Linked DNA regions of Homo sapiens: region 1 is reported to be linked to region 2. Evidence: microRNA targets listed by miRTarBase, many of them from high-throughput screens and not tested one by one. Region 2 holds a microRNA gene; the other region holds the end of a gene's coding sequence.

Region 1 (4,348 bases), not on the chromosome of region 2:
AAATACACGCTGTGCAGATATAAATACTCTGTAAAAATCCACAAAAACATCCAGGGGCCCCAAAGAAGAGAGGCATAAACAGATACAAGATGATAAGTCTTTCTTAGCAGAAAACGCTGCAAGTGAAGAAACTGGAGTGAAGAAAGTGGGGGAAGGAGTTCTGAAGTGAAACAGAGGAAAGCTGCTCAGGAGATGACTGCGGGATATTTATTAGAATCCTTGAAAAACATCACGCCATCTTTCCAGAAGAAGAGAAGAGGTTTACTCTGGGTGGCACAGACCAATTCAGCTTTCATGGTCTTCCTCCGTAGCACTGACCAAATCAAAATACTGCAGCGTTTCACTGTGGTTAACAGGATGGAAAGGAGGAAAAAACTAAAAACAAAGTATTTGGATTTGTCTAAATACTTTAGAACTTGATATAAATGTATCAAGTACATTACAGTTGTTTTAGTTGGACGAAAAAGAAAACAAAGAATCAAAAATAAATTACTAATAAACATGAAAAAGATAACATGTTTCTAATATGACAATAGAGTTTTGGCCAAAGATATGTAGACATTAAGCTAATACAATTCAAATATCCACCATCTTCAGTTACCTTATCTGTTACACTGTCAAGTTGTTCAGCAGGCACACAGGTGCACACACACACACTGTATTTTCTGGCTAGTGTCCTTTGCTATTTGATTTTTGCTCTAGCATAGAGTTTTGGATGTCTTAAAAACTAAACTCTTTGTAAACAAACAGTATCTTCATCTCTGAAGCATAAAATTACATGGTCTTGACCCAGAGAAAGAGGAGAGACATTTAATAGACATTTCTCTTCCAGTTAAGTAGGAGTCTGATCTTCTACAAAATAGTTTATTTGTCTTTTTAATAAAGGTTGAAAAAATGTCCACCCTGGATTAAAAAATCAGTTAACCAAGGGGAACGTATTTTTTTTTTAAAGAGTAGTTTTAAAAAGTATTAACTGGTGTCCATTAGACATATTTCCTTATATTCAGCTACTAGAGAAAAAACAGTTCCCAGGGAATTTGGGGCTTTCTGCTTCTATATGTGGTCATCTTGTGCGAGTGTTCTAATCTAATCTATTCCCTGCCCATACATAGCCTCCTATTCATAAGACTGGCTGAGGTATTCACGCTGAGATGAATACACATGCTCTAAGACCAGACGCGAAAACCTAATGGGCCCAAGTACTGTCTGTGAACATCAACACATACCCAATGAAGAAAACTTGTAATGTTTTCATCAACATAAAATGGGTGACATTATGTATGTGAGGCTGCATCCTATTAAGAGTTCAGAGACTCCAGATCCATAGCAATGAAGTCGCCTCTAGGGACAGGTTCTTCTATTAAGTGGTAAGAAAAAAGTAGCTTTTGTTGCTTTTAAAAGGTTATTTAACACTTGGATATTTCTAGCACCGTCAATTCTGAGGAACTCTACATATTTCAAAGCAAGTGGCTTTTGATCCTATGAATAGGTTCACTTCTAATTCAGCATCCTTCAGAAGAGCCCATTACTGGCTCTAGAAAGCTGTCAATGTCCAGAGCAACACATTATTACTCTGTAAACTCAGTGATTTAGGTGGAGAAATAATATCCACATTTTAAGTAACAAAAACCCGAGGCAGCTTAAATGACTTCTCCAAGCGACCTGGTGACTCTAGGACATTTATCTCCACTGCTGTTGCTCAAATCCATCAGAGAATAGCTCTGGACAGTGGAATAAACATACCACACCATGGAATGAGCCCAGGAGACCTGCAGAGCCACGTCTCAGTTTAAGAACACAATGTGTGCACCACACACACACACATACATACACACACACACACACAGTCTTTGTCTATAGGCAAACAGAGAAGTGGCCGGTGAGTTCAGCTGCTTACAGAGGAGCATGTACTGGTATGTAAGGTTCCAGCTAAGTAAAGAAAAGGGATGTGAAAGTGCAGCCACTTCCGTGCCCTTTGATCACACACAGACTACACAAGAGCACACAGAAGCTACGCATATTACAGCAACAGCGTTCCTCCTATTCAAGATTGTCCAGTGAAAGGAAAACTGGACCTCTGAAATGATTAGCAAAGAGAGGCATGTTTCCACACACAATAAAGCACATCCAACCATCCTCAATACCCATCGAGAATGCTAAGATACCTCATAGGACAATAACAACTTTCAATTGTCGTTGAGGTTTGACCTGATTTACACATCACACACTATATATCTCCATCTATGCATTCCCTTGATGGGTCGTGACTCTTAACAGAGTCATCGGGCAGAGGGGAATCTCCTGGTGGTGAAGCCTTATCCTCCCACTTGAGACCCACCCTTCTGCCCTGTGAGTGCCCGGCTGGGCCAACAGGGACAGCCATGGCTCTTGCGGTGCTGAGCAGGGCCATCCTGCCGTCACCACTGTGGCCTAGGCAATGGGCTTCAGGGGTGTCCAGTCCATAACAACCTTTCTTTTTTTTTTTTTTTTTTGAGATAGAGTCTCACTCTGTCACCCAGGCGGGAGTGCAGTAGCACGACCTCAGCTCACTGCAACCTTCATCTCCCGGGTTCAAGTGATTCTCCTGCCTCAGCCTCCCAAGTAGCTGGGATTACAGGCATGCGCCATCACACCCAGCTAATTTTCGTATTTTTAGTAGAGATGGGGTTTCACCATGTTGGCCAGATTGGTCTTGAACTCCTGACCTCAAGTGATACACCCACCTCAGCCTCCCAAAGGGCTGGGATTACAGGTGTGAGCCACCGTGCCCGGCACAACCTTTCTTTGTTATGAACACTGTGTCTGCTGTGAGATATGCTGCAGGGCCGCCCTAATCACAGAAAGCAATGGATAGAAGCATCTGACTTTTGCATAGAAAAAAAAAAAAGCAAAATGTGGGAAAGAGGAGTCCCACTAGTCTTGCTGCACTGTCACTGGGAATCAGCTCAGGGGAACATCTCTTTCCTTCCCAAAACGCTGGAGGAAGTCCAGCCCTGCTGTTACTGGTGTCTCGGTTTACTTGGCCACTCCTGGTGATAGTGGTGCCTGCAGCGTCTGACTGACTGTGAGGTGCTGCTGAAGAAGGAAAAGGTGATGGGAGACAAAAGGGATAAGGTCACAGGATGACAATGACTGCTGTAGCAGAGATGCATTACAACAGCAAGAGAAGGGACAATCTTTTCCAAGACCATGGATAGTAAGCCTTTTGTTCAGGAGACTCAGAATTCAGAAAACAAGAATAATACTGAATATGTCGGTAAACAAAACAGAAATAAATGAATGGGCTGTTCAATAGTCCAGAACTGTTCTTTTTTCTATTTTAGGGCTGAGGGGTTTCTATTTAGTCTACATGTGTCAGTCTGAGCAACGTGAGAAGTCCCCTCCTGAAGATTTCCTTTTGCACGGCTGGCTCAGCACTGCGGGTAGCTCGGCATTAACAAAAGCGAAACGGTGGTCAGACCTTCACAGGGTCCCACCCTCACGACGACACTGGTCTACGTACTCCAGACAGGCCTCAGTTCTTCTTGCTGTCCTTCTGAGGCTCACTTTTTGTGGTCCCTAGGTTGTTCCACACCTCTGTGTACATTAAGGTCCCAATGAAGACAAACAAGGTGCCCAGCCAGTGCCACAGGGTGAAGGGGTTCTGGAAGTACAAGATGGAAAAGATGAGGCTCACAAATTTGCGTAGGGTCACGACGAGCGTGACGGTGAGGGAGGCGCATTCTGTGGTGAGGATAAACACACCCCGGATGCACACGTACCTGGAGGAGTGGAGTCAAGGTAGTTTTCTGTAGACTGTACTTGGGGGATCAGTGAGAGAACCTTCTGGCATGGTCCCTGGTTTAACTTCTCATATTCTAAGAAAACATGAAGGTCCGCTACGGCAGCTCTGAGGCTCCTCCTGGGGAGAACCTGCAGAACAACTCCTGTCCTGCCATTCCATTTATGGGTACCAATTTGAAACCGCCAAAAAACCCCCAATTATTCTTATGTTGGAGTCTTCCTATGGTTACAATGACAGGCACCTCCAAGATAATGACAGAGGGTGACGCTCTCGGTAAGGGTGATCCCATTCACCTTTATTTATCTTGCCTCCAGCCCTTCTATCCCCTCCTCCAGAAAGGGACTCTGGCAAATCTAGGAGCTGACTTCAGAGGAATGAGGTCAATCTCGATTCGTTTCACTATTTCAAAGACATAATTATTTTTATAATGAAAGTAAGGTCATTCGAAATAACCATTTTAAAAAACGAAAACTTGATTACTTTGAAATTTCTTTTTTTTTTTGAGACAGGGTCTTGTTCTGTTACTCAAGCTAGAGTGCAGTGGAGTGATCAAGCTCACTGCAG
Region 2 (4,403 bases):
TCATGTTCCTCTACCTGGAATGTCAGACACAGATATATTATTAAACAGAAACAGTGCTGAGGACATCGCACCTGGCCAAAGTTACAATTCATTTGTTAATGGGACGAATAATGTGGCAATTAGCCTTGTTTGAGAGGTTATGACAAGTCATCGAAGGAAGGTTAAAACTTCACATTTGCCAGGGACACTTGTTATAACTGAGGCCAATCTGTCTACAGCAGTTTAGGTGCTCTTCAGAGTTTTGGGCAGTGTGACCAGTATCTGAATTTTACAGGAGTTTTTAAGTGTGACATAACCTTTTAGTAAATGTAGAATATAGTATTGTATACAACTAGGATGGGCTTAAACAGGATGAAACTAAGGTTGGAAGGTAAACTAATCACACATAATATGCAGTTTTATGTACATTTTTGGAGCTCTCTGATGTTCGAGGCACTTAAGAAGTCATACATAATATACATGTTATGTCAAATACTGTACCAGAGGAATAGAGGATTTGCATGTGATACAGACCAAAGGGTATCCAAGCAAGGCGACAGAAAGAATGGCCCTCAGGACAGAGGGAGCAGCAAGACCAGAGACACCAGAGCATGAACATGCTTCCTAGATTTCCCAGGGAGAGGAATCGTTCCCTATCCTGGGGCATAGCAGCTGCAGGGAATGACAGGAGACGTGGCTGGAAAGCTGGGGCCAGATGGCGGAGACTCCTCAGCTCCACGTTAACAACGTGCTCCCTTGGCAAGCCGTACAGATCCTTTGAAGGATTTTGAGCAGAGAAATGACAAGTTTATACTAGAAACAAGCAGCATGGAAGGTAGGCTGCCTGCATGGAGTCTGGAGGAGGAGAGCAGCGCAGAGAATAGTGTAAATTCTTCCTGCAAGTAGTATTGAGGAGGTACAAATGGGAGGATAGAACTGGATTTAAATAGTTTTCAGAGAGAAGAAAGTCAAGTGAAATAGGACAAAGAGTCCAAAGTCAGTCCGTGGTCTCCATTCGGAGAAAAAGGGCTTGGGAAAGAATATATGGAGTTTGGTTTTGAATGAGCCAAAATTGAGGTACCGAAGAACATCCAGGTGGTGAAGCCTATAGGAGATTGGACATTTTTCATGTGATTCTTAGGACAGAAGCTGGCACTGAGACTAGAGATTGGGGTATCATTTGAATAAAGGTGAGAATTTTGTCTTTATGTATAGAGTTCCTTAAGATTCTATCAGAATCCATGTCAAGATACAATTTTTCTGATTAAAATAATTTCTTTTAAAACACTATAATGCAGAAACTTATGTGTAATTATTTTATGTTTTGTAACCTTAATGTTACCGAACTTGTGTTAAATAAGTTTATCTTGTTTGGGTCACAACTTTTATTCCAGAGAAACGCAGTTCTTATTTTGATTTTGCCTTAATACTGATGATTTTTTTTTGAAGTTCTTTAATGTTAAGCATTTTCAGTGTGACTTTTAAAATTGCTTTCCTTAAAAGTGACTGTGAAATTGCTAAGTAGGCTGAGATTGATGTCAGGTTATCCCCAAGCATAACCTCACTCTCACCTTGCTTTGCAGGCATATCTTTTTCTTGCACATCAAGGAGGCCCTCTTGGCAGGCCACCTCTTGTGTTCCCCAGAGCAGGCAGTGGAACTCAGTGCCCTCCTGGCCCAGACCAAGTTTGGAGACTACAACCAGAACACTGCCAAGTATAACTATGAGGAGCTCTGTGCCAAGGAGCTCTCCTCTGCCACCTTGAACAGGTGAGGCTGTTGAATATAGTATTGTTTACAACTAGAATAGGCTTAAACAGGATGAAACTAAGGTTGGAAGGTAAACTAATCACACATAATATGCAGTTTTATGTACATTTTTGAGCTCTCTGATGTTCGAGGCACTTAAGAAGTCATACATAATATACATGTTATGTCAAATACTGTACCAGAGGAATAGAGGATTTGCATGTGATACAGACCAAAGGGTATCCAAGCAAGGGGACAGAAAGAATGGCCATCAGGACAGAGGGAGCAGCAAGACCAGAGACACCAGAGCATGAACATGGCAGCATCAGGGCTACTGCATATATTCATAGAGCTATCAAATGTATAAGCATTTCCAAAAGAAGATGAATCTGTGGTACATACACATAATTTGTGAAGTTAAGACTGGGCCATTGCCCAATTTAACCAAATATTTTCAAAAAATTTGTTAGCCTTTTATTTGAAAAATATGTAAACACAATATGAAATGCTATATAAAATGGGAATTTTTTAAATCTGTGCCTTTAAGTACAAATCTCCTAAAATAAAAAATCTATTATGTATATTGGTGTTTTCTTCATCCCAGCAAGAATTAAACCAGGAGATCTAACATAGGCATTTTAGTTATCTATTCCTGCATAACAAGTTACCCCAAAACTTAGTGACATAAAACAACAAAAATTGTCTCACAGTTCTGTAGGTCAGGAATCTGGCCATGTCTTGGCTGGGTCCTCTGGCTCATGAGACTGTAGTCAAGCTGCAGGTAGAACTCTGTCTCATCTGAAGGCTCGACTGAGGGTGGCCTCCATGCCAGGTTGACTCCTGTGGTTTGTTGGCCTACCTCCTTCCCTGGCCACAGGGGCCTCAGGGGTCAACTTTATACTTATAAACTATATGTGGACAAATGCATGAGACTTTCCAATATGTAAATTTGACTTATGTATATTTTTAGAGACTTTCCATAATTCTTCCAATTCATCACCCATCCAGCATCCCCAAAGTGTTTTTACCAAGTATTTAATAGTTGAGATCCCAGTGTCTTAGACGTTTTTTATAGTAAGTTCGCTAAATACATGAAACATCAGTAATACATAAGTTTTAAGTTGTTGTGATTCATCAGTGTTAGTATATTTCACTCGTGAAGACTACATAGGTTTATCTCTAAAGCTAATATCTGTATACTTAATTCTCTGTCCTCTTGGTGTCCTCCAGCATTGTTGCAAAACATAAGGAGTTGGAGGGGACCAGCCAGGCTTCAGCTGAATACCAAGTTTTGCAGATTGTGTCGGCAATGGAAAACTATGGCATAGAATGGCATTCTGTGCGGGATAGCGAAGGGCAGAAACTGCTCATTGGGGTTGGACCTGAAGGAATCTCAATTTGTAAAGATGACTTTAGCCCAATTAATAGGTAAGCCAAGACTTAACTTTTTTTGACCTAAGCATGTGTATACATCTGTAGCTGTCAATGTAATAGAAAATAGGAAGGGATTTACTCGACAGTCAGCTCTTAGGAATGAAAGATTTCATTTTGGTATGTACATTAATTTTATTCAGGCCTAAATAACCATTTTAAATGTTATTCAAGGTATACAATGTGGCAGAGTTAACGTTTTCCAAATAACCCATTCACTGCCATAAAAAACTTGTTTTCAGCTCTAGACATGCATGTGCGCACACCCAGCACTTGCTCCCATACTTCCCTCCACATATGCCCAACTGCTTTTCACTGTATCTTTACAATAAGGCAGCATTATGGTGATGTGATAACCCCAGAGGAAGCGTCTGATTTTTCTGCTAGGTCATGAGCAAATGGGGATCCCACAAAGGCACACACATGGTGAAGAATCACTCCTTCTAGATCTGCTTTCTTTTCTCTTCCTGTCTCTTAGGATAGCTTATCCTGTGGTGCAGATGGCCACCCAGTCAGGAAAGAATGTATATTTGACGGTCACCAAGGAATCTGGGAACAGCATCGTGCTCTTGTTTAAAATGATCAGCACCAGGGCGGCCAGCGGGCTCTACCGAGCGATAACAGAGACGCACGCATTCTACAGGCACGTATCTCGTGTGCTTGGTCACCTCAGCACCACAGCTCTCAGGTTTTTAGGTGACAACCAGGTTTCTACGGTTCCTTGGATTGTTGTGTCAATGAGTCTAGTACAGAATTTAAGAAATTCTGAACATTTTGTTTCCGTAGTAGCAGTGGAGTCCTTATTAATGTAGTCTTGTTTTACCCACAGAAGGTGCATGTGTGTGAGCTGCACAAACACATTCTCTGCTTACCTCCTACCGTATTCTCTTATGCCATTAATCTAGACACAAAGTGTGTTAGGAGATTTCTATGCCTATTTAATCAATACAACAACCCTAAGGGGTTATTATTACCCTAATGTTAAAGATGAGGGAACTGGGAGGATAATTATTTACTTAGTCTAGGACTCAGCTTCAAAGCCAAGTTTGATTACCCTAAAGGTAACCCTGAGGGACTGGGCCTGCTCCACTGCTCAGGAGAAGGATAGCACAGATCATCTTTTCTTTCTGGCAGAGCTGCTATCCTGAGTCGTCACTGTGTATGGAAGGATTTTTTAATAGCAATATTGATTCCCTCATTTCAGAGGGTACTTTAAAGCCAAGTTGTGATTGGACTCACGTATTT

Evidence for each region. Region 2 holds the annotated microRNA hsa-miR-4639-3p (UCACUCUCACCUUGCUUUGC, at 1,541-1,560, shown strand). A microRNA usually pairs through its seed, bases 2 to 8, with sites in the 3' UTR of a target mRNA and lowers its output. Matches are read on the target gene's strand: a 7mer-m8 pairs with bases 2 to 8, a 7mer-A1 pairs with bases 2 to 7 and ends in A, and an 8mer does both.
Region 1: the mRNA of SLC35B4 is a reported target of hsa-miR-4639-3p. Seed matches in the 3' UTR shown: 7mer-A1 at 2,504-2,510.

What each region holds. Positions count from the first base shown.
Region 1 is chr7:134,291,319-134,295,666 of GRCh38, forward strand. It overlaps SLC35B4 (solute carrier family 35 member B4), which reads right to left. Exons shown (of 10, transcript NM_032826.5): 10 at 1-3,761. The coding sequence ends at 3,515. Among named protein-coding and RNA genes, the nearest start is that of SLC35B4, 23 kb to the right of the region's middle. RefSeq lists a silencer at 1,920-1,979.
Region 2 is chr6:16,140,063-16,144,465 of GRCh38, forward strand. It overlaps MIR4639 (microRNA 4639), which reads left to right and starts at 1,494; the gene lies at 1,494-1,562. MYLIP (myosin regulatory light chain interacting protein) reads left to right here. Exons shown (of 7, transcript NM_013262.4): 3 at 1,563-1,748; 4 at 2,958-3,155; 5 at 3,637-3,801.